7 linked regions of the Homo sapiens genome follow. The protein of the gene in region 1 purifies or fractionates together with the protein of each later gene. This does not show direct contact. Each region holds a gene or a part of one and is shown in the gene's direction. Other genes may lie near its edges. The genes, in order: SLC34A2, LMTK2, SLC30A7, CNTN1, EPDR1, ZDHHC18 and ATP6V1A.

Region 1 (3,500 bases):
AGGGGCTCAGAGCTCCAGGGTACATTCTCTGCCTGCACCATTTAATACCCACCCCCACCCACCCACCCCACCCCCACCACCCTCCCCTCCTGCTCATCCATTGCAACATTCTTGGGCGGGCATTTCCAGCATCTGAATGATCATGTGGGAGTGACCTGCAGACATGCCAATCTAGCCAGCTATCCGAAAACACTCAGAGCCCTCAATGTGCCTAGACCTAAGGCCCCTGGGTGCCCTGGTGCTTTGAGGGCTGGAGAATTTCTCCTCCCTTTGCCCCTGGCTGTGAGATCTGTGGAAAAGCTTCTGGCTTTGGAGCCAGCAGTCTTGGGTTCATATCCTGACACCAGCTCCAGGTAGTTGGAGGCAAGCTTCTTTGTTTCTCTGTGCCTCAGTTTCTTTGTCTGTACACTGAGAAGAAAAACTCCTTCCTTGGTAGATTTAATGAGGTCACAAACTGTATAGGACACTCCTCTGCCACAAAACAAACATTAGCATCTTTCTCTCACAGGCTTTGGATTCATTTATTCAAATATTAACTGAGATCCACTACCATGCTGAGCATTGGAGATGAAGAGCTTATAGTCTAGGGTACACACAGTGGAAATGAGGCCATTTACTGTTCATGACACAGTGCATTTCCACGTAATAAACACTCTTGTTTATTGTTCATGACACAGTGCATTTCCACATTGTGTCATGAACAATAAACAAGAGTTCCGAGTGTTTACTCTGCCAGGCACCATGCTCTAGCCTCACCTACACTTATTAACCAATTAGTCCTCATAACAGCTCAGTAAGCAAGATGGTATTGTCCCCATTTTTACAATGATGAAGCTGAAGCTCAGAGTGGCTCAGGGTTGCATATAGTGAGGGGCAGGCCTCTGCAGAGCCAGCCCTCCCTCACTGTGATTCGCCTCTCTCCAGGTATCACTGAGCCATCTTACCTTTGTGAGCTTAGAGGTTGAGTTGCATCTTTTAAAATAATTTTCTTCTAAAATTTAAAAAATCACCCACAGTCTCACCACTCCCTTTTACCTCCAGAGAACATTTCTGGATCTTGTCTGCCTTGTTGAGATGATGCTGTGAATGGGAAAAAGAAGTGCTTTAGATGTGAAGTTTATCTAAAGCATTTCCCTATGGTTTTACTGATTCAGTATAACCTCTTTAATGGCATGCTCTTACAATGCATGGACATACCATAGTTAGAAGGAGTAATTTCTCTTTTTTCATTTTTTCACACTGTAAATGATAGAGCAGCAAATATCTTTTTGGTCTACATCACATTCATTCTATCATAAATATGCCCGGCAGGGCTCAAGACCTTAAAGATGAAGTGATGGACAAGACAAAGTCCACTTTTTGGTAGGGTTTGCAGTCTGGTAAGCAGGAAATAGGTTGACGAAGAAAGGAGTCAGGTGGACTCAGGCTCTAAGAAGCCCTCTTGGAAGAGGTGATCAGAGTAAGTTAGGTATTTCTGAATTTCTGAGAGGAAATATTCCTAGCTTCCTGATTCCTAGAAGTGAAATGACTGGGTCACAGACGTGTGATGAACATAAGGCACTTTGGACAGTTTGCTAACTTTTCCAGAGCTTCTAGCAGTGTTCAACTCATAACATCTTCTCCAGCATAGCATAATGAACTTAAATTCTTTTTGCTACTTTGATAGTTGTCACTGTTTTAGTTTGAATATATGGGATTGCTTCTGTTTTTTTGAGACGGAGTTTCACTCTTTTTGCCCAGGCTGGGGTGCAATGATGTGATCTCAGCTCACTGCAACCTCCACCTCCCAGATTCAAGTGATTCTCCTGCCTCAGCCTCCCGAGTAGCTGGAATTACAGGTGCATGCCACCACGCCTGGCTAATTTTGTATTTTTAGTAGAGACGGGGTTTCACCATGTTGTCCAGGCTGGTCTCTAACTCCTGACCTCAGATGATCCACCTGCCTCGGCTTCCCAAAGTGTTGGGTTTACAGGCATGAGCCACTGTGCCCGGCCTGGATTGCTTCTTTTTTAATAGGCATTTTAGCCATTTGTTCCTTTTCTGTGAATTGCCTTTCTCCAATCTTTTGGACTGCTTTGTCTAATGGACAAGGACTAATTGTCTAATGTCAAAGAACAAGGACTGCAAGGACTGGAATGTGAGGTGTGTCAAGTACCATGTAACTGAGAAAGGCCTTGTGAAGAAAATAGATTGTAAGAAGGTCTTTTCTGAAGGCTGAAAAGAATGTGGTTCTAACAAAGGATGATTAATCCAGACAGCATGACATAGTAATAATTGCTGCTATTTATTGGATGCCTCCTCAATGCCAGTCACTTTCTAGACTTTTAATTTCACTATTAGTCTCATAACCCTGCAAGAACTGTTCCATTTTATAGATGGAGAAACTGACACTTTATGCTCAGAGGCATAAAGGGACTTGCCTAAATACACACTCATTAATAGGTGGCACTGCTGGATTTTAAAACCAGGTCCATCACTCTTTTCACAGAAGGCCTGGGTGGTAGGTAAAACACGCAGAAGGTATATGAACACCTGCATATACTTATATATTTTGAGACAGAGTTTTGCTCTGTATCCCCCAGGCTGGAATACAGTGGCATGATCTCAGTTCACTACAACCTCCGCCTCCCAGGTTCAAGCAATTCTCATGCCTCAGCCTCCTAAGTAGCTGGGATTACAGGCACCCACCACCATCCCCTGCTAATTTTTGTATTTTTAGTAGAGACAGGGTTTTGACACGTTGCCCAGGCTGGTCTCGAACTTCTGACCTCAGGTGACCCACCCACCTTGGCCTCCTAAGGTGTTGGAGTTACAGGCCTGAGCCACCTCGCCTGGCCCCTGCATATATATTCACATACACACTAAGTTGTATAAATCTGTTAAATTCCACTGGATAAGGTTTTGCATAGATTTGCAGTGCACTTGTCTTGATATAAGAAGTAGATGGGGTTCCATTGAAGGGTTGTGAGGATTTGGCATGCTATGAGACAACAAAGATGAATGGGCTTGCACCCTGCCTTTTTCTTTTTTTTTTTTTTTGAGAAGGAGTTTCACTTTTGTCACCCAGGCTGGAGTGCAATGGCACAATCTCAGCTCACTGCAACCTCTGCCTCCCAGGTTCAAGCGATTCTCCTGTCTCAGCCTCCCGAGTAGCTGGGACTATAGGCGTGTGCCACCACGCCGGCTAATTTTTATATTTTTAGTAGAGATGGGGTTTCACCATGTTGTCAAGGCTGGTCTCAAACTCCTGACCTCAGGTGATCCACCTGTCTTGGCCTCCCAAAGTGCTGGGATTACAGGCGTGAGCCACGGTGCCCGTTGCACCCTGCTTTTGACTGAAGGAGAGAGTCAAGACAAAAACAAGTTTACGAGATTAAAGGTGGTACATGCAGCTAACTCAACACTGTACGAGGTAGTTTGCTTTAGCGACTGGGTGAGTGTTTGAAGGGGAACCACAGAGGAAATATGGTGCTTAATATGCCACACTTAGGGGGCATAAG
Region 2 (3,500 bases), on another chromosome or scaffold:
GTTGTTTCTGAATGTTTTCTGTCCTGGTTGGTTGACTCTGAGGATGTGGAACTCTCTGATCTGGAGGGCCTCCTGTCCTTCTGTTCTTTTTCATTATTGATGTTCTAGGTTTCCTTCTGGAACCCTTTCCCTTCTAATTAAAGAAATTTAACTAGCTTTTCTTTTCTCTCTTTTTTTTAAAAACCCATTTTTTTGCAGGATTCCTTTTATTTTTAAATAAATTCTCTTAGTTTTTTTTTCCATCTAAGACTATTTCACACTCATTCCTGAAGCCTGTTTTCTCTGAGTGTAGAATTCTGTGTTGATAATTGTTTTCTTTCAGCATTTTAAAAATGTATCCCTTCCTTCCACCCTCCACGGTCTCTCATGAGAAATTTGCAGTCACTCAGATCATTCTTCTCCTAGAAGTACAAGTGGAGCGTCCCTTATCTGAAATGCTTAGGACCAGAAGCATTTTAAATTTCTGATTTTTTCAGATTTTGGAATATTTGCATTATACTCACCAGTTCAGCATCCCAAATCTGAAAATTTGAAATCCCAAGTGCTCCAGTGAACACTTTGGGCGTCATGTCAGCGCTCAAAAGGTTTTGGATTTTGGAGCATTTTGGATTTTTGGTTTTCCGATTTGGGATGCTCAAGCTGTAATACATGTTTTATCCCTGGCTGCTTTCAAATCTTTGTCTTTAGCTTTCAGCAGTTTGATTATGGTGCATCTGAGGGTGGATTTCTTCGTGTGTGTGTTTTGTTTTGTTTTGTTTTGTTTTGTTTGAGACAGAGTCTTGCTCTGTCACTAGCTGGAGTACAGTGGCACGATCATAGGTCACTGCACCCTTGAACTCCTGGGCTCCAGTGATCCTCCCTCCTCAGCCTCCTGAGTAGCTGGGGCTACAGGCGTGCACCACCACGCCTAGCTAATTTTTAAATTGTTTGTAGAGACAGCATCTCACTGTGTTGCCCAGGCTGGTTTTGAACTCCTGGCCTCAAGGGATCCTCCTGCTTCAGCCACCCAAAGTGCTGGGATCACAGTTGTGAGCCACCCCACCTGGCCCAATTTCTTTGTATTTATCCCGTTTTTGTTTTGCTAAACTTAAATCTGTAGTTTTGTATCTTTCACCAAATTTAAGAAGTTTTCAGGCATTCTTTTCTTCTAGTACTTTTTCTGCCCCACGCCCTGTCTCCTCTCTTCCTGGGACTCCAGGGTTAGACCCTGTGTATTCTCTCATAGGTTCTGAGGCTCTGGTCCTTTCTTCCTCCAGGTTTTTTTTTTCTTGCTCTTGTTTGGATTGGGTGATTTCTGTTGCTCTGTCTTCAAGGTCCCTGATGATTTCCTTCGTCATCTCCATTATGCTGTTGAGCCCATCCATTGAATTGCTAGATTTTGGTTATTATACTTTTCTTTTCTGAGTTTTGCTTTTTGTCATTCTTCTTATCATCTGTTCCTTTGCTAAGATTTTCCCTATTTCTGTTCATGGTAAGAGTGTTTCCCCTTAGTTGTAGGAGCATTTTTATAATAGTCCTTTTTCAGATAATTCCAACATCTGTGGTACGGTGACACTGGCACCTGTTGATTGTCTTTTCCCAGGTAAATTGAGGTGTTCCTGGTTTTTGTATGTGAAGTAATTTTAGCTTTTGGATCCTCCTATCATGTTAGGCAGTCTGTGCCATGTGTAAATGCTGTGAATCATGTTGATACTTTTACCTTAGCAGGCCTTGACCCGGTGGGTGCAGGCCACAAGCTCCAAGCAGCCTTCTGTGGGTTGTGGTTTCAGTGTCAGCTCCCAGTTCCCCTTTCAAAGCCTTCGCTGTGCTGTTTGAACCTGCCCCACGTGTGTGCCCCGCACCCCACCCCGGTCTCCCCTGAGGTTCATTTTCAAAGCTTGGGTGTGTTCAGAGTCAGATCTACCACACACAGCCCAGGAGCCCCCCAGCAACTTCATCGGGTCACCTTTTTGAGCTCCTCCCTCTTCTGTGATGTCCCTGATACTTGCAGTTCTTTGGGCCTCTGCTTTCTGGTCCCCTAGCTAGAAAGTTGAGGCTTTAGTTACACGATGTGCCATACTTCCTGCAATCGCACGCGCATCTGGAGCCAAGCAGTGGGAGGACAGAAGGGAAAAAAACTCAGCGAGGGTCCCCTCCCGCTCGTGATCACAGTCCTCCAGTGGAGAGGAGGCTTCATGGCCCTCAGGATTATAGGCAGCTGTTGCCCCAGGATTGCTTGAGACTGGAGAGCAAGAGAACAGAGAAAAGAAGAAAGCTGGAATTCCCCCTTCTCTTTCTGAGCATCAGAAGACCCCCTTCCTGCTCCGAAGCCAGAACCAAGGGCTTCTCCTGGAGCACTGTGTCCAGGGCAGTGCCCACTTTGGATTCCGGGCTGACCTGAGTCCAGGCGGGGGATTGTGGAGGAGAAGCCGACACACTTGTTGCTGGTGGGTGGCACCTTGAGCACTGCCGCTCGTGCCCGCCTGCCTGCTGCTCTGCGCTTCTCTGCAGCCTCAGAGGGCTGCTTCATGCCTCTGCCGAGGTCAGAGCTGCAGGCAGAGGGAGAGACAGGGCCTAGTGTCTGTCCGTCCTCCCAGGCCTGGAGCCGCCCTTGTCTTGAGACGCTTACTTCTCAGTCGATGAGTCTGATGCGCCTGCCAGTGGGGAAGCGGTCACACGGGGGGTTCCCGTGAGCAGGCCTTTGCTGACAGGAGTTTCTGTTTGACTTTTCAGGAGACCCCAACCAAAGAGCTGGGGCCCTGTGGAGGAGAGGCGTGCGGCCCGGACCTGAGCGGCCCAGCCCCAGCCTCAGGCTCTCCCTACCTGAGCAGGTGCATCAACTCCGAAAGCTCCACCGACGAAGAAGGTATTTCACGTCATTGTCTAGTTTTAAAGGAAACTGAAAAATTGAGTAATGTAAAGGTTTTTTGAGGGTAACTTCCCATGTTGCTTTAATGACGCCCCCTGACATGGGCACAGAACTGCCATCTGCCAGCCGGGCCGGGCTGTGTCTTCCGACCTGCAGGGCGCACCTGCCCAGAGGCTCCCCCTCTCCCTCATCACGCAGTGATAAAAAGGGTGGGGTTTTATTTTTTATTTCTAGGTGGTGGCTTTGAGTGGGATGATGACTTCTCCCCAGATCCTTTTATGTCAAAGACAACAAGTAACCTGCTCAGCTCCAAGCCTTCTCTCCAAACATCCAAGTACTTTTCTCCGCCGCCACCGGCCCGGAGCACGGAGCAGAGCTGGCCGCACTCGGCGCCTTACTCCCGGTTCTCCATCTCTCCCGCCAACATTGCCAGCTTTTCCCTCACACACCTGACCGACTCGGACATCGAGCAGGGCGGTGAGAGGCGCTGCGTGCTGGGGATTGGGAGTGCAGGGTCGGGGGTGGGGCGCTGCAGCTGGGAGATGGTGGTTTTGCAGGCCTGATAATCTCATGTCTTCTTCACATTTGCTGAGTAGATTACAAACTTGTTTTTATAAAACTCCCATCATCAGCTGGGTGCAGTGACTCCTGC
Region 3 (3,500 bases), on another chromosome or scaffold:
CTTCAGTGGAACAATAGGTAGTTGTTGTGTGTTTTTCCCCTCAATAAATATCTGCTACCTTTCACCTTCCCACTAGAACGTAAACTGTATTAATGTAGGGATCTTTTCTATCTTATGCAGGCACTTCAGTACATAGCACATAGTGGATGCTTAATACATATTTGCTAAATGAAAGAATGAGGGAATAATTAATGTATGGAATTACACTACCTATACTAAAAATGGTAACTACCCCGTTAAGGAAAAACAGCAATGACAAAACATTAAATTCCATTCTCTCACTCTTAGAAATTGGGAGGAAAATGGTAGAAATTCTATGTGATTTTTCCCTTCCTTCTAGTATTTTATTTTTCATTTACTAATTTATTGTTGAGTAACTGACTAATCTCAAGGTAACATAGTGTAACAATGTGGTTTTGTATCATCTACGGTTAAGTTTGTTTTCAAGTTACAGAAAAACTCTGCACACCTGTAATCTCAGCTACATGGAGGCTGAGACACCAGCATCCCTTGAACCTGGGAGGCAGAGGTTGCAGTGAGCCGAGATTGAGCCACCGCCCCACAGCCTGGGCAACAGAGTAATACTCTGTTTCAAAACAAAACAAAAACCTAAAATAATGGTTGCTTACACAAGATAAAACTTCATTTCCAAGATGGGTGCTAGTGTTTCAGTCATCCCTGGCAGCATAATGTCTGGAATGCAGATAAAAAGAGGTAAAAGGTGTGCACATTTTTTTTTTTTTTAAGATTTACCTGGATGCTAACACACAATGCTTTCACTAAAATTTTATCACATGGTCATGCCTAGTTGCAAATGTAGTCTTTATTCCACTCAGCCATGTATTCTGCGGAAAGTCAAGGATTTTTTACTAAGGAAGAAAGAGAATATGTGGATAGTGTAGGTTTTGGAAGTGGGACTTGAGAGAGAGAGAGAGAGAGACAAACTAACCTGTCATCTTCTATAGTTGGAAAATTGAGGCCTAGAGTTTTTTACTTCCCAAGTGAGCAGCAGAGCCTACAGCACCTATTGTCCAAGTTTGATGTCCAAAAAACATCACACTGGTTTTTTCTAGTATCTCAATATAGTTTCTGTGTTTTTATGTTCTTACATTTTTACTTCATTTTTAACAGATTTAATTTCAGTAGTATTTCTTACCAAAGCTGTTGCAACCATTTTTCCCTTAGACATAGAAGACACTCAGGTAACTCTAAAGGTTAATGTCTTTGTGTTAACAAAGTAAATATTTGTTGAAGAAATGTTTAAGACAATACCAGACATTTATTTGGTTCTACTTCAGTGTGATATTTCACAGCAGATGTTTGTAAAGTAATTCCTTAGTGAAGAAAAATACTTCTATCAATCACATGTTTTTCTATTAAAATTTTCATATATCTTAGTCTTTTAAAATCAACTTTTTCCTTCTCAAAAGGCAGCATTACTTACCAGCTTATGGTGATGGCTTTTGCTTTCCTATAATTTTATTTCCCACCTTAAAAACATAGATAAATATTCCATTTTGCTTAGAATTTTTTTTAAAGTAAGGGACTATATAATGGAATGTAGTGGAGTTCTGGGTTATTTCACTGTAACTCATTTAGTTTATTGACTTTGCTAATGTCAGGATTCTAAGAATTTTCTAATTTCCTGATAATAAATTGACAGTGTTTTTCCCTGACTTTCCACATCATGGAAAGTACCTGGTAAGGGATTTCTGAATTATGATGATTCCTTATTTTCAATTTTGAACACGTTTAACAAACAATATAAATATACCGTTAGCTTAGTTACCAATAGACCTTTTAAACAATTTTTTATCACTGGGTATTTTAAACATATGTAAAAGTAGAGCATTTAATGGACCTCATGTACCCATCACTGAGCCTTAACATTTATCAATACATGGTCTATCTTATTTCATCTGTTGTCCCTGTCCCACCATTGGATTGTTTTAAAGCAGACACAAGATGTAATTTCTTCCATAACTATTTCATTATGCTTCTCTAAAAGATAAAATCCACCCCCCCTTAACATAACCCAAAACCATTATCACCCATGAAAATTAATGACTCATTAATATCCAGCTAACGAGTATTCAGGAGTCCCTCATTGTCTCATAAATTCTTTTTACATTTGGTTTTACAGATTAGAAATCAAACAAGATCCATACATAGTATTTAGCTTATATGTCTCTTAAGTTGCTCTTAATTTATAGGTTCTCTTTCTCCCTTCCTTTGTTTTTGCCTCCAATAGACCCTAAATAAAATTCTTTTCAAAAGTTTCTTTTGCCATATATTCTATTGACATTTGTGCTGTTTTTGCTTCTGTATTTATGTATTCAGGTTTCTCCTTTATACACGTAGAAGTTTTCTTTTTCTTTTTTTTAAGACGGAGTCTTACTGTGTTGCCCAAGCTGGAATGCAGTGGCGCGATCTTGGCTTACTGCAACCTCTGCCCCCTGAGTTCAAGCAATCCTCCTGCCTCAGCCTCCCAAGTAGCTGGGAGTACAGCCACGCCTGGCTAATTTTTGTATTTTTAGTAGATGGGAGTTTCTCTATGTTGACCAGGCTGGTCTTGAACTTCTGACCTCAGGTGATCCACCCACCTCAGCCTCCGGAAGTGCTGGGATTATAGGCACGAGCCACTGCACCCGGCTGGTTTTCCATGTTAAAATGTCTTTAGAAGGTAGTCATTTAAAAGAGTTTACAAATACATTTTAGAGAAACTAGCAGTGCTTAAAGAGGAGTCTACGACAAGTAAGTGGATTTTCACAACCAGCTTTACTTTATCATGGTTTACTGAAGTTACCTTTGGTGTTTCAGTCATGTAACCTTAGGTATTCTCTATGCTACCTTTATTTTTTAAGGAAATTTATAGTTTAAATTTATAGTTTAAATATAATTCATAATCAGAAACATTTGCTAAGATTGAATATGAGCAGTAAAATTGACCTTCCTCATAAGCAATATTTTTACATGTGATAGGTCAGCAGAGAGCTAAAAGTAGACTGTTTTTCCCATGAGTTTGTGTATTTGCAGCTAGGTAATTTTTAAATCATGATATCAAGTTTAAGGGAAAAGATCTCATATTGCAGTGTTTTAAGAGAACATAATGTTCTTCCATCTCAGAAGAGGGAGTAGTTTTTCAGGTAGTCACATTTTATTAAGTACTAAAAATAACATTTTAATGCTAATTAAATTTACTTAAAATTTAAATAAAATTTCATTTTGATGAGTATTAAAATTGCCGTGCTATATCCACACCTCTTTAAAAGGAACCTGACTGCTATTCTGTGCAAAAGGAATTTTTATTTTTATTTTTATTTTTTGCATTATGGCAATATTTGGTTTATGTTGGGTGCATATAAAGTAAATTTGTTGAAAAAAAGGAGTGTGTGTTAGTTTGCTAGTCTGGTGTAATAAAACACCACAAACTAGGTGGCTTAAACCACAGAAATTTATTGTCTCACAGTTCTGGAGATTAGAAGTCAGAGATCAAAGTG
Region 4 (3,500 bases), on another chromosome or scaffold:
ATCAAATGAATCTACAGTGACGGGATATAAGGTATATACAAATAGTGATGATTAATGTTTGCAATTCTTGCTATTTCAGTGAAACCCAAGATGGGTTTCTTTTCTTTTTTTGAGATGGAATTTTGCTCTGTCACCCAGACCGGAGTGCAGTGGTACAATCTTGGCTCATTGCAGCCTCCACTTCCTGGGTTCAAGTGATTCTCCTGCCTCAGCCTCCCAAGTAGCTGGGATTACAGGTGCCCACACCCACACCCGGCTAATTTTTGTATTTTTAGTAGAGACAGGGTTTCACCGTCTTGGCCAGGGTGGTCTCGAACTCCTGACCCCAAATTATCCACCTACCTCAACTTCCCAAAGTGCTGGGATTACAGGCATGAGCCACCACGGCTGGCCCCATTCAACTTTCTTATTCTATTTAATAGTTGTAGAGCAGAATCAGATAACGTAGTGCCATGATACATTTTGAAATGGAAAACATTATCTTCAGTGAATTTCAGCAAAATGTTATGTCAAAAGTGTAAGATAAGTAGAATACTTTAAAGATAAAATAGAATAATCAGAGCTTAAGGAGGAGAGAGAACGAAACTATTTTTGTTTGGCAATGATTATGATAGGGTTGCCCAGCACCCAGAAAACTCCTTGATAAACTGAGTTACTGTTTATAAATGAATAAAAAGGAGAAAAGCTTATTTTAAATATATTCTTTATATCACACACTATCACATTTTTCACTGGATACCAAATTTTATGGAAAATGGTAAAAATAAAAATTGAGAGACAATTTTCAGACCATTTCAATATATTTTAAAAGTTCTCATTTTGGACTTTTTTCTTAAAAAGACTCATTCTTTCTATATTTTTATTTTGGGTCATCTCAAAAAATAAAATTCAGATGCTTAAGTCACATCTCCTTGGATAATCCTACAAACTTGCAAAAATCAACTATTGTGAATTGAAACTAACATGATTTTTTTCATCTAGTTTTAAATTTAGTTTTTCCTCTTGTTTTAAATTTATTACTTTTTGTTAATCAAAGTATAAGCATTTTTATTCTGGTTTTAGTGTTAGAGCATTGGCTCATTATTATGACTTTACTGCATATTTACATTTCTGTACTTTATAAGGTACTCTACAGACCTGATGGCCAGCATGATGGCAAGCTGTATTCAACTCACAAACACTCCATAGAAGTCCCAATCCCCAGAGATGGAGAATACGTTGTGGAGGTTCGCGCGCACAGTGATGGAGGAGATGGAGTGGTGTCTCAAGTCAAAATTTCAGGTAAGTGAGTCATTTAAGACACATTTCAACTAAGTACTTGTGAGTTTCTAGACCCTGTGGATTCCCAAGGGTAGGGATAAGCCTGATACACCAGTGTCCATATTTTCCTAAGTAGATTGGACATATCAAGGATTCCCTGAAACTTGGTATTTCTCCTCTTATGAGTCACAAAAGTAAGTCTGTGACATACCACATACTTCTTGATTATTATCTGGATGTCAAAGCACAGTTGAAATCTTTCAGACATAAGACGAACGAGTTTTTGGGATCCAATATACAGTATGGAACATATTAGTTTATTTGATTGTGGTAATCATTATACAATGTATACATATATCAAATCTTCATGTTGTTCACCTTGAATATATTTAATCTTTGTCAGTTAAATATTTTCAAATAAAAAGCACAATTAAAATGGCATAATTTATTGAATACTATATAATACTAGGCTATTATTTAATAATAACCAAACTTCTATCAAAAGGAAATACACTAGGCTATTTTTAATACTCTTATAACTCTTTCACTTGGACTATAGATATTGATATAGTAGTAAAAGAGAAAAACACTAAATTATAGCCCCTTTGTCTTTTCTCTTTCTCTATCTTATCTATTCCTTTTCTACAAACTCTATTTCTCACACCTTTGTTTGATTTGGAAATACATATATTTGAGGCAGTCATTTCTTTTTTTTTATTTCTGGCAATCTGTTATTTAATTTTTGACATATTTTTCTTAACCTATATGCATGATATAGTTTAATTATACTGAATTTCAATAGATGTTAATTTGAGAAATGTATGAGAGGCTTTGACATTACCAGAAGATCCTAGAACAAAGATGATAATAAATAATTTATAAGAAAATTTGGTTAATCTGTACAACAAACCCCATGACACAAGTTTACCTGTATAACAAATCTGCACATATACCCCTGAACTTAAAATAAAAGTTAAATTTTAAGAAAACTAAAAAAAAAGAAAATTGAAAATTTGGTGATTTTGATATAAAGAAATAAATATGCTATATATTAAACCAACAAAAAATCCTTTACCACAATGCCAGAGTATTTAATGGTATTTAATAAATGCTGGCTTCAATTGTATGCCATGTTTTTGTGAAGTTTGCCACAATACATATATACATCCTTTACAAATCAAAATAGAACTTTGATTTTTTTTAGTTTAATCATCAGCAATTTTGTCTTTTAAGAAAATAGAGAAATTACAGAGATGTGAAAGGAAAAGAAAATAATCATGTTCCAAATACCCTAAAATAGCTACTGTTAATGCTTAGTTGAATTTACTTATAGTCACTCTGTATACATATATAATTTCATGTTTCAGCTTCCATTTTTGTAAATTATTTAAAAATTATAAATGATATTCTTTCAAACAAATATGCAAACTCATTAAAGTTTTTTTCTATCATAAATAATACTTTTAGAGTCCATTTTCATAAATTAATCTTTCTTCTGGTTAAATTTAAGACAAAGTGTTTTAGGTTGCTAAATTTCTTCAAAAACACTTACTAATTTCTATTCCTATTATCATTGAGTATAAGTGCTTTTCTCACTGTACCACTCTAATATTATTGTCTTTTTAGTCATTGCTAATTTGACAGGGGAAAATAGAATTTTCTTATTTTTGAAACATTTTCTATATTCAGAACTTTGTCAACATCTTCAATAGTTTTACACTTAGTGGGCAGTTTCACAAAAGGAAATCAGAGGGAAATATGGCCATTATTTCAAGGAAGGTAAAGCACAAATAACTAAATAAATTGCTCTTGAACCCTGGGCCTTCTTTCTCTTGTGTAGAAGCCAGCCACAGCGAGCTTTTGCTCTCTGTACTCACCCTTGGTTCATCATTCCTCACCGAAAGGAGAACCTAGCTTCTGGGATTTAGACTAGAGGTTTTCAGCAAGAGATGATGTAGCAGTGATGGTAACATCAGTTTACCTATCACTAATGGCACTGGTAAATGTTAAACAGTAGAATCACTAGGGATAGGGGAAAGCCCTGTTTATAATGTTTGCCTGTTTCTGTGGTGTAAATATTCTCATTATGTGTGATTTCAAGCTTTCCAAGTGATGTCACTTAATATGGAGCTGTGAAGAGCTACCCAGTAGCACATCATTATATGTAATTGCCACCATACAGGTATAATAAGAACCTAAAAAACATTTGACAACATTATAATATAGTAAAATATTAAGAA
Region 5 (3,500 bases), on another chromosome or scaffold:
GAAGTTAGAACCTGTGCTCTGGTCATGCTCAGTGCTATCAGGTGGCACTGCTACCAGGTCCTCTCAATGGACAAAGCAAGGGGTGTTAAGTTTGAATACACACATCCCTCCCCACACACACTCATACATATATACACATTTACATCTATATTTATTTCTGAACCTCCAGTTCTAATCCATACAGGTGTTTAAACTGATGCCTTCATTCTAATCCAACACTACATGGTTCATTCTAGTTTTTTTTTTCCTTTCATTTTTGCTACTCCCTTCTCAGCCAGTGAGAAAACTGGCTTACTATTCAATTGCAGTAGGTAACCAGTCATGTATCATTACGCTGTCTCCTTCACACATGGGCTCTGCGCTCCAGGCCAGCCCATGTAGAAGCCTATCTTCCTTGGTCCTACCTAGTGGCTTTAGTCTAAATTGTTCAAGAGAAAGGAGTAGATGAAATTATGTTCTTAACATATGTTTGTATTGCTTTTGGATTCTCAGTATGTCATCATTACAAATCCTCAGAGGGTGTTTCTGTGTGACTGGGGGAGGCAGACTAATATAAAGTGCTCAATAAATCTATTTGATCATGAATCTTGTCTTGCATGGATTGGATTTTCATTTTAAGAAATCACGACTTTGTGAATATTAAGAGCATGACTTCTCCTTTGACCTTTACTCCATCATTTTGGTCTCAGATGGCTGGAGATAGCATATTCTTTTGTGAGCTGAGGAAGTCTTGACTGCTTGTGGCCTCCTGATCCTCAAAGAATAAACCATACTGATTTGCAATACTTGAGTTTCGCAATATTTGAGTTTTTCTTCAAGAAACAGATTTTCTTGGAAGCACACAAAGTTTGATTTAAGGGACTTAATTCAGTGTGTCTATAGACCCTGGATTTCAGACAATTAATGCTGAGATGGGGAGGGAGAAGCAGGCACTGGGGAAAAAAGATCCAAAGAAGATAAGCCCAGGAGAGTAAGGAGGCTGATGGAATGTAAGACAAATTTACGAATGGAAGCCAGAGGTGGTCACTATACTGCTTTGAAAACATCTTTACTTTCTCCAATAACCTTGAGCTGTTTCTTCCTGATTCTGACCTTGAGGATGGTGGTCAGGGGCAAAGTGCCCAAAGATCTGAAAATATTCCACCAATTAGTGGTTTGTTTTTCCTGGAATAAATATGATAGTCTTAGATTTCACCAATTCCAGTAAAAAATTTCTATTTTCCCCCTTAACATTTTCTTTTATTTTACCCATCTTTAAATAAAAAAAAAAAACTTCTCTTGATCTTACCAGCTGAAATCTCATTCTCCTCTTCTATTTAAAGCAAATCTCATGCTAACTACAATTTTTGTACTCCCATGCTCTCTTGAACACCCTCCAATCACTTTTGTCACCATTCTATTGAAAATACTCTGGTCAAAAGCAAGAAGCTCTACATTACTAATCAACCAATCTTTGATCAGTCCTCATCTTATTGTAGATTAATTCCCCAATCTTGATGCACTGTCTTCACTTGGCTTTCAACATGCTAGTCTTCTGGTTTTCCTTCTCCCACCTTATTTCCTCTCCTCAAGCCTTTTTGCTCTTTCTGCTCTTCTCTGGACTGCTAATAGTGGACTCTCCCAGGGCTCAGGCTCTCATCTCTTTATGTTCCTACCTATACCCTAATTTTGATATATACTGAATCTGACCATACCTCTACTGTTATTCTGGCCCAAACTTTTATTATGTCTCGGCTGGATGTTTATGATAGCCTCCTAACAGTTGTCCCCACTTCGGACCTTGCTCCCTTTAGTCTGTTCTCCACATAGAAACCCCAGGGGTTCTCTTGAAAATACGTCATGCCACTTCTTGGCTCAGGATCTGCTCCCCAGCCTTTTCCCTACCTTATCTCTGTCACCAGCTCACTCATTGTGGACCTGGCCTCAGCACGCTGACCCCATTGGCACTTGAATCTGTCATTCCCTCTGCCTAGAAAGACTTTTTCCTAAGAAGCTGCATGACTTACTCCCAAATTGAACTGTTTCTCTGCTCAACATTCTCAGTGCCCCCTCACTGCTTTATATTAATATATCCAAGGCACTTATGACTATCTGGCAGAGTGTTTAACGTTAAAGTTTGTTCCTTCATCTCCCCCACCTTCCCTCATGCACAATAAGGCTCCGTAAGGCCAGGGGTTTTGTATGGTTGTTGCTGTGTCTCTAACTCCTCAGAACACTTTACATTCTTTTCAACATACTATGTGGGACCTAAACGAATACTTGTCCCATATGAAAAGAGCTGTGTTCTGATGTCGGAGAAGGCGATTCCCAAGCTCCATTTTCTAACTGCTAAGAGCAGGGCCTGACTAATTTTTATTTTTTTTTGAATCAGTGAATGAGGGAAATGAATAACTGATAATATACATTCATTGTAGAAGGATACCTAAATAATAGATATGTATTTTCTTTCCTTTTTTCCTTATAATTAAATTTCTTAGACAATAAAATGATAGATTTATGTAATGGTTTCATGGTTTTTCATTTATATGTTACGTTATACCTCTTTTCTGTTAAGAATGATTTTTGACATCGAATTACACTGCAGTGTTTTGAAAAGTTTTCCAGTAGGGTTGAAGTGGAGGGCACACCACCACCTCCAGAGAGTGGATGCCCCAAACTCCTTTCGCCCATGAGCCACTCCCCCACTGCCCTCTCATCAAACACTGTCTTCAGTGTCTCTCTTGTGCCTCAATTTCAATTTTGGGGAATTTCACCCAATGTGGGCATTTGAGATTTATTTCTAAAGCACCCACAGTTTCTCAGAAGCAGTGCCTTTTTGAGTCGGGAGGCCATCTGAAGAGGAATCAGATCCTTAGCAGGGTGCCTAAGTTACCCTCAGTCCCCCCAAAGAAAGGAGAAACTCTTGGGATGATGGCTCCCCTAAAGAAGGCAACTTCTCCTGGAGGAAAAGGATATACATGCCTTGGATGACTCCTGCCCGCTCACAGAAGGCTGCTTTTGTTGTGGCTTAAAGTTAGATCTTCTGGTAGAGTTCTAGAATGTGGGCCCTGCCGATGAGTGACAGCCAAAAGCTCACCTTGGAAGAGGCACCAGAGTCACAGCCCCAGCTCTCTCAGGGAAGACGCTGCTCCAGAGCATCTCAGAAGCCACCAGGGAAGACAGTGGCAGATGGGAAGCCGGTGGTGCAGGGCCAAGGGCACAGCTCTGCCTGACGCAGCATTGTCAGCAATAGGTAACATATAACTTATGAGGAGTATCTGAGTACCAGCAGGCACTCTTGGGAGTGAAGGATGGGGGAAGAGAATCTGCCCCAGACTTCATATCCATTGGAAATGCCACATCAGGTGCTGTATCTTGGCATGGATTGTGTTTCCTGTAGGTGTGGGAGTTCTTCTTCTCACAGTCAAGCCCTCCACCTGTCCCTTGTCACACACCCTGTCCTTTTGAATAGAAATTCTCATCCTAGCCCAGCTTCAGGCACGGCCTGGCTTACCCTTGGA
Region 6 (3,500 bases), on another chromosome or scaffold:
CCTGGCCAATTGTTCCCTAATTTTTGTTTGTTTTTAGAGACAGGGTCTTGCTCTGTCACCCTGGCTAGAGTGCAATGGAGTGATCCTGGCTCATGCTCACTGCAGCCTGGAACTCCTGGGCTCAAATGATCCTCCCACCTCAGCCTCCTTAGTAGCTGGGACTATAGTCACACGCCGTCATACCCGGCTAATTTTTGTCATTTTTTATAGAGATAGGGTCTTCCTATTTGCCCAGGCTCATCTTGAACTCCTGGGCTCAAGCAGTCCTCCCATCTTGGCCTCCCAAGGTGCTGGGACTACAGGCATGAGCCACTGCATTCGGCCTGTTTCGTAGTTTTTAATCTGTAGTCAGATTTCCACAGTTGCCCTCCAAATGTCTTTTGTTGCTGTGTTTTGTTTTGTTTTTCAAAATAAGATCCATGATGTATTGCATTTGTTTATGTCTCTTAAATCGCTTTTAATTTAGAATCATCTCCTCTCTGCCTCTCTTTCTCTCTCTCTCTTTTTTTTTTAAGACAGGTTCTGGCTTTGTTGCCCAGGCTGGAGTGCAGTGGCGTGATCTTGACTCACTGCAGCCTTCACCCCCTGGGCTCAAGTGATCCTCACTCCTCAGCCTCCCAAAGTGCTGGGATTACAGGTGTGAGCTACTGCACCCGACCTCCTCTCTCTTTTTATAAATGACATTGACTTTTGTTAGAGATCAGGCCAGCAGTCTTGTAAATGTCTCATATTCTAGATCTGACTTTTTCCTCATTGTGTTACTCACTTTGTTCCTCCATCTCCTGAACCTCCTGTAAACTGGGACATAGGTCTAGGCTTGATGAGATGCAAATAAACCTCACTGGCTGGGCGCGGTGCATCACTCCTATAATCCTGGCTGTTTGGGAAGCCAAGGTGGGCAGATCACCTGAGGTCAGGAGTTCAGACCAGCCTGGCCAACGTGGTGAAACTCTGTCTCTACTAAAAATACAAAAATTAGCTGGGCGTGGTGGCACACTCCTGTAATCCCAGCTACTCGGGAGGCTGAGGCATGAGAATCGCTTGAACCTGCGAGGTGGAGGTTGCAGTGAGCTGAGATTCACGCCACTGTACTCCAGCCTGGGCGACAGAGTGAGACTCTGCCTCAGGAAAAAAAAAAAAACCCTCACTAAGCTTTCTGGGAGTCTCCTTCTCTGACAGCCCTTCTTAGAGTGGGTAAGGCCGGCAGGTGTATGAACAGAGGCAGTCTCAGTACATGGTGGCAGTTCCTAATATTTGTCCCTGCCTTAGGCCAGACATTTTACTCCAATGTTTGTTCCTGGGAACCTGTTACCCTGAGGCTTCTCCTGGACTGGCCAGGCAGCAGTAGCTTTCCCCTGCTGGGGATCCGGGCCCTGGGCTGCCTTGGGCATTCCCCATCTTTCTCTCCTCCTTCCCTCAGACAACACAGGCAGTTCTACATACCGGCCACCCCCTCGGACCCGGGAGGTGCTGATCAACGGGCAGATGGTGAAGCTGAAGTACTGCTTCACCTGCAAGATGTTCCGGCCACCCCGAACCTCACACTGCAGTGTCTGCGACAACTGTGTGGGTGAGTAGGAGGCAGCAGGGAGGGATGCAGGGATTCCTGAGAGAGACTGAGTCGTGGGGATGGGGGGCATCAAGCATGGGGATGGCGTGGGCAGGGTCTGAAATACCCAGGGCTGGGCAGGGGGTCTGGTTCACCCAGATTTGCCCTGACTCAGGAGGGCCCAGGGGAGGGGCCCTCAGCATAACCAGGAGTGTTTTGGCTTCAGCTCAGGATTGGTGGATTCCTTCCCCCAGCTCTGAGGTGTGGGGCAGACAGACAGGCTTTGAACCCTTCTCCCAGGCTTCAGCCCGGTCCTCAAGAGGTCCAAGCTCCCAGGAAACAGACTGGAACAATAACATTCCAGATGTGTTTGGGCCAGAAAGAATGAGTTACTGTCCAGTGGCCCAGGGCCAGCTGTACTGAAAAACTTTGATCTGATTCCCAGAGTTGAGAGGGAAAAGCATCTAGCAACAGAGGCGTTTAAGCTGATGAGGTGCAGAGGATGTCACCACTGGAAATGGCTCCTGACCCTACAGCTGCCTGCAGTGGTTGTTTTGTCCCCTCTCCCTGCTCTCCAGAGGCTGTGTAGTTCTGATGGGCACCCTGAGAGGGTGTTGTAAGGGAAATAATGCATGAGAGGGCCCAGGTGAGCTGAGCCACAGTGACTGTGCATAGTTCCCAGGGCAGTGAGCTCATCATGCCAGCTCAGTACTCCCTAAGCAAGAGAACAGCAGGGAACACCCCCCCGTGACGGCATGCAGTGAAGGGGGTGACTCAGTGGGCACCATTCATCCCCAAGGAGCTGCCCCGCCCACGCCGTGCAAAGGGCACTGGCCTTGGCATGAGGCCTGCAATGGGCTTGTGACCCACATTCCCACAAGGACTTTCTTTACCAGTCTGGGTGTGCCTCCACCCCCGGGGACAGTGTGCAGGTGAGCTCAGCCCTTTGACCTGGCCTGTGATGCTGGCTGGCTGTGAACCCCATTGCAGCTCAGCCCCTCCCTGGGCCGCTAGTCCTAGAGCAGGAGACGGGTTGTTGACTGTTAGCATGTGGTTGGGATGGTAGACCAGGTGACAAGTATTTTTGTGAGTCTTTGTGCCGGCACTGCTCTGGATCCTGGGGAGTCAGCATGGTGTAAGACCAGCACAGCCCCCCTCGCCCATGGAGCTTACAGTCAAGTAGGGCTGATTGGCCAATCCAGTTATTATAAATAAGCATAAAAACACACATGGGCAGAGTGTGACAAAAGAGAAGTGATGGGGCAGATAACAGGGGCCCCCTCCCCTAGTCTGGGATTGGAAGAGACTTTCTTAAGGAGGTGGCTTTGCAGCTGAGACGCGAAGGAGAAGTTCCAGTTAACCAGGTAAAGAGACGAGAGAATGTATCAGGCAGTGGGAACTGGTACACAAAGGACCAGAGGCAGGTGTGTCCAAGGCCTGGGAGCCAGCTGGTGCTGCGAGAGTGAACGGGGTAGGAAAGCCCCAGCCATGGGTGAGGCCGCCAAATGCCTGTGCTGGCTGCAGGCCAGCCCACACTAACCCATCGCCCCTTGCCCTTGTCCAGAACGATTTGACCATCACTGCCCCTGGGTGGGCAACTGTGTGGGGAGACGGAACTATCGCTTCTTCTACGCGTTTATTCTCTCCCTCTCATTCCTGACGGCCTTCATCTTCGCCTGTGTGGTCACCCACCTGACGTTGCGTGAGTTGTGGGTGAGGGCAGTGGGGAGTGGAAGGGGTCAGCCAGCAAGCTCAAGGGTCAGCAAGCTTCAGCAGTCACTGTCCCTCTGAGCTTGTCCTCTCCTGTTTCTTTCTCCCCAGGCGCTCAGGGAAGCAACTTCCTCTCCACTCTGAAGGAGACACCAGCAAGATATCCTTTGTCAGCTAGAGGACACTCCAGTGGGAACTGAGGTCCCTTCACTGGGTGGGTGCCCTGCCTCATCCTCTAATC
Region 7 (3,500 bases), on another chromosome or scaffold:
TGCGTGATCTATAAGTGGACTAGCACTAGACTAAAAGTCAGAGGATCTTCATTCAGCTCTGCCACTTTAGTTATATGTCCTTTTACGTAATGCTGGGGAGGGGTTCAGGTTTGATACTTAGGAACCTTCCTATGACATAAACCCTAGGTAATCTATGTGAAAATATCTTAAAAACTAAGTGGTGTCTGTAATCCCAGTGCTTTGGGAGGCCAAGGCGGGCAGATCACAACGTCAGGAGATCGAGACCATCCTGGCTAACACGGTGAAACCCTGTCTTTACTTAAAAAAATTAAAAAAATTAGCCAGGCATGGCGGCACGCGCCTGTAGTGCCAGCTACTCAGGAGGCTGAGGCAGGAGAATCACTTGAACCCGACAGGTGGAGGTTGCAGTGAGCCAAGATCACACCACTGCGCTCCAGCCTGGGCAACAGAGTGAGACTCCATCTCAAAAAAAACAAAAACAAAAACAAAAAAAACTAAGTGGTGTGTAAAATGGTAAAGCAGTGTAGCTCAGACTTTACATGAATTGATTTCCCAGTCATAGAGACCTAGTTGAAGTTCTGGCCCTACCACTTAATAACTGTGTGACTTTGGACAGTGTACTTAAGTAAGGTTAAGTTTTCTCACGTTTAAATCTATAGATGGTGCTATTAAGTTAGATCATGAATGTAAAATGCCTAGAACATATTTTGTAAAAAAAATTTTTAATTAATTTTACTGATAACTACTTTGATTTTATATACTGAATTTCTAAAGACTTAAGACAACCCACAGAATTGACTGATGTCCCTGTGAGCAGCAGGTTTGGGGCATGAAGAAGAGAGTAGAATTTGAAAAGAAGCTATTACCCAAAAAATGGGGGAACAAGAAAAGTGTACTTGTAGCAAAGATTCTAAAACAGATTTATTAATTTTATCTGAAAAATATCAAGATAAAGTCCCTTATTTGGGCAACTGCAGTGTCTTAATATTTTCTATATAAAGATTTTCCAAAGCTTGTAATCATTAATGTATGGAATAAATTTAAGGAGGCAGTTCTTCAATTTTGAAGTTTTTATTCCTGCAATGGATTATAGAAGTATATTAAAATTGTACAGATTGTAGAGCAGGGACTTTTGAGTTAATGCTTATAAGCTTAAAAATTTTGTCTTTTTAAAAAAATTAAGTGTTTTTATATCTTATTTTTATCCTTATATGAAATAGACAAAGAAATGTAGAGAACATAATGGAGACATAAACTAGAGTAAAATTCTTCCCTTCTTAAATTCATGATTCACAAGGGTTAGTAGTTTTGCAATGGAAAATATCAGCAAATTAAACAGTAAGTATAGCTATCATGAGTTTATGAATCACTTTATTCCTGAAAAAAAAAATTACTCATTTGTCTTAAGGAAAGATTTTATTAAGTTTATTGACTTTTCCTTAATGTTGATTGTCTATTATAACAAATGGATTTATTGATTTAGGAATGAATTTATTCTTTATACTAAGTAACTTTATTTTAAATAAATGAAATGTGAGCAATAAAAATGTTTTCCATATAATTTCTGAAGAGAATATTAGTTTTGCTATTCTCTTTTTTCCCTATGGTGAAATGATAGCGACTTTGGTTTTTATAAGTGTATTCATTTATATTTAGTATATACATATTATGTATATACTATATATAGAGTAAATATTTGTAGTATATAAAGTACGCAATGTGTGTGTATGTATATATAAAGACAGCTGAAGTGGTTGTGTATCTTCGTAGTAACATATTTATTTTTACCTGAAACTACTGAAGTGATCTTTAGAATAATGATTTATTTACATTTGAAACTCCTCTTTCTGTATATTTCTTTGTAGTTAGCTCTAGTTAATAAATTTACAACTGTGATTAGCTGTTTTTAAAAATTAATGGTATATCATAAGTATTTTCAGATTTAAATTTTAGAAGGAAACACTTTCTTATATCTTAAGGTTTTAAAAATCACTATTATTTTTGGTATTATTATGACTAACAACAAAAATTTCAGTTTTGGATCTTAATGCTATCTGTTGAAACTGTTCTCTTGGTAAGCCTTTAAAAAAATTTTATCTGCAACATGCCACATTTTGTTTCTTTTCTGAAAAATAATTAAGCTTATTTCACTGAAAATAAAATGGGTGGTATATGATATGATATAGAAGAGTTTCAGATGTGCTTGAGCAATGAAAAGCAACCAGACTTTATAAGTTTTTAGTTCTTAGTTTAATTTTTTTAATGTTTAAAGGTACAATAGAGAAGACTAATTGAATTGGAAAATACCTTTAAAATTGAAAAAAGAGCATATGTATAATAATAATAGTATATACATATGGAAAAAGTTGTAAGGAAATGCATCAAAATAAGTAATTATCTCTAGATTGATGCATTAAAGAAAAAATTAAAATTTATTACTATACCTTCTGTATATTTGAATTCATAATGTCAGTAGGCATTGCAAAATATTTCTTAATTTGATATGGAAAATTAAGGCACCTAAATAATTCTTTCATCTTAACTACTTGGATATCTTAAGTGAAAATGTTTTGTCTCATCCAGGTAGCTGAGTAAGTTATTTAATTTTATAGGTGTGTAAATATATTTTTAATTTTAAGTATATAAGTGCAGCAGAATTTTAAAAAGCAGAGTAAATCTCAGTATATAAGATAATTTACCACATTTCAAAGGGATAATTCAATCCAATGGTGAAAAAGGGCACATATATATCATAAATGTTAACTGATACAACTTGCTCATCTAGAAGAAAATATAATTGATCCAATACATTGCAACAGATGCAAAAACTGATTTCAGATGGATTAGAGGCTTAAATGTAAACAATAAAATATTTAAGATATTAATCTCCTAAATTTCCTTTATACAAACAATCCAGATGTAGTTTTTTAAACCAAGATAGGAAACCTAAAAGTCATAAAAGTATGGATAGACACATGAGACTGCATGGAAACGAAGGATTCTTTAGTGGCAAAAATAAAGGACCAAAGACAAAATCAGGCGGAAAAAAAGGCTTGAGATATATGTAACAGATGAGTTAACCATTGAAAGAACTCTTTCCAATTAAGAAAAAGTTCACCCAGTAAAAATATGGATAAAACATGTCACCAGAAGTTCACAGAAGAGAAATCCAAACATTCAACAAACAGTAAAGGATGTGTAACCTTACTAGTAATCAATATACTAACAATGAAATATTATTTCTCTGACAAGCAAAAATTAAGTGGTAAACCTACTGCTAGCAGGGATATGTGGAGAAGGATTATCTCATAAAATGCTAGCGGAGATGTGAAGTGTTAGAGTTTTTCCTAGTAAACAATCAAGCAACATCAGTTAATACTGAGAATACATGTATTTTCCACCCATCAGTCTAACTCCATGTAATCTTTTCCTTAGAAATAAAAGCACCAGTAAGAGTTTACAGGAGTGTTAGCTGCAACAGTGTTTCAATTTTCAATGTTAGTAGTGGCAAAAAACGT

Evidence for each region.
Region 2: the proteins of SLC34A2 (region 1) and LMTK2 purify together in Homo sapiens (affinity purification with mass spectrometry; 3 studies listed by BioGRID and IntAct, with this or other methods). This does not show direct contact.
Region 3: the proteins of SLC34A2 (region 1) and SLC30A7 purify together in Homo sapiens (affinity purification with mass spectrometry; 2 studies listed by BioGRID and IntAct, with this or other methods). This does not show direct contact.
Region 4: the proteins of SLC34A2 (region 1) and CNTN1 purify together in Homo sapiens (affinity purification with mass spectrometry; one large-scale study listed by BioGRID and IntAct). This does not show direct contact.
Region 5: the proteins of SLC34A2 (region 1) and EPDR1 purify together in Homo sapiens (affinity purification with mass spectrometry; one large-scale study listed by BioGRID and IntAct). This does not show direct contact.
Region 6: the proteins of SLC34A2 (region 1) and ZDHHC18 purify together in Homo sapiens (affinity purification with mass spectrometry; 3 studies listed by BioGRID and IntAct, with this or other methods). This does not show direct contact.
Region 7: the proteins of SLC34A2 (region 1) and ATP6V1A purify together in Homo sapiens (affinity purification with mass spectrometry; one large-scale study listed by BioGRID and IntAct). This does not show direct contact.

The regions. Positions count from the first base shown.
Region 1 is NC_000004.12:25,658,851-25,662,350, forward strand, and holds part of SLC34A2 (sodium-dependent phosphate transport protein 2B), read left to right. Parts: intron 1-3,500. UniProt on the Homo sapiens protein: Involved in actively transporting phosphate into cells via Na(+) cotransport.
Region 2 is NC_000007.14:98,200,862-98,204,361, forward strand, and holds part of LMTK2 (serine/threonine-protein kinase LMTK2 precursor), read left to right. Parts: intron 1-2,712; coding exon 2,713-2,845; intron 2,846-3,082; coding exon 3,083-3,325; intron 3,326-3,500. UniProt on the Homo sapiens protein: Phosphorylates PPP1C, phosphorylase b and CFTR.
Region 3 is NC_000001.11:100,899,090-100,902,589, forward strand, and holds part of SLC30A7 (zinc transporter 7), read left to right. Parts: intron 1-3,500. UniProt on the Homo sapiens protein: Zinc ion transporter mediating zinc entry from the cytosol into the lumen of organelles along the secretory pathway.
Region 4 is NC_000012.12:41,027,939-41,031,438, forward strand, and holds part of CNTN1 (contactin-1 isoform 1 precursor), read left to right. Parts: coding exon 1-31; intron 32-1,124; coding exon 1,125-1,281; intron 1,282-3,500. UniProt on the Homo sapiens protein: Contactins mediate cell surface interactions during nervous system development.
Region 5 is NC_000007.14:37,927,140-37,930,639, forward strand, and holds part of EPDR1 (mammalian ependymin-related protein 1 isoform 1 precursor), read left to right. Parts: intron 1-3,500. UniProt on the Homo sapiens protein: Binds anionic lipids and gangliosides at acidic pH.
Region 6 is NC_000001.11:26,847,188-26,850,687, forward strand, and holds part of ZDHHC18 (palmitoyltransferase ZDHHC18), read left to right. Parts: intron 1-1,420; coding exon 1,421-1,570; intron 1,571-3,113; coding exon 3,114-3,251; intron 3,252-3,370; coding exon 3,371-3,419; intron 3,420-3,500. UniProt on the Homo sapiens protein: Palmitoyltransferase that catalyzes the addition of palmitate onto various protein substrates, such as CGAS, HRAS and LCK. Acts as a negative regulator of the cGAS-STING pathway be mediating palmitoylation and inactivation of CGAS.
Region 7 is NC_000003.12:113,750,035-113,753,534, forward strand, and holds part of ATP6V1A (V-type proton ATPase catalytic subunit A), read left to right. Parts: intron 1-3,500. UniProt on the Homo sapiens protein: Catalytic subunit of the V1 complex of vacuolar(H+)-ATPase (V-ATPase), a multisubunit enzyme composed of a peripheral complex (V1) that hydrolyzes ATP and a membrane integral complex (V0) that translocates protons.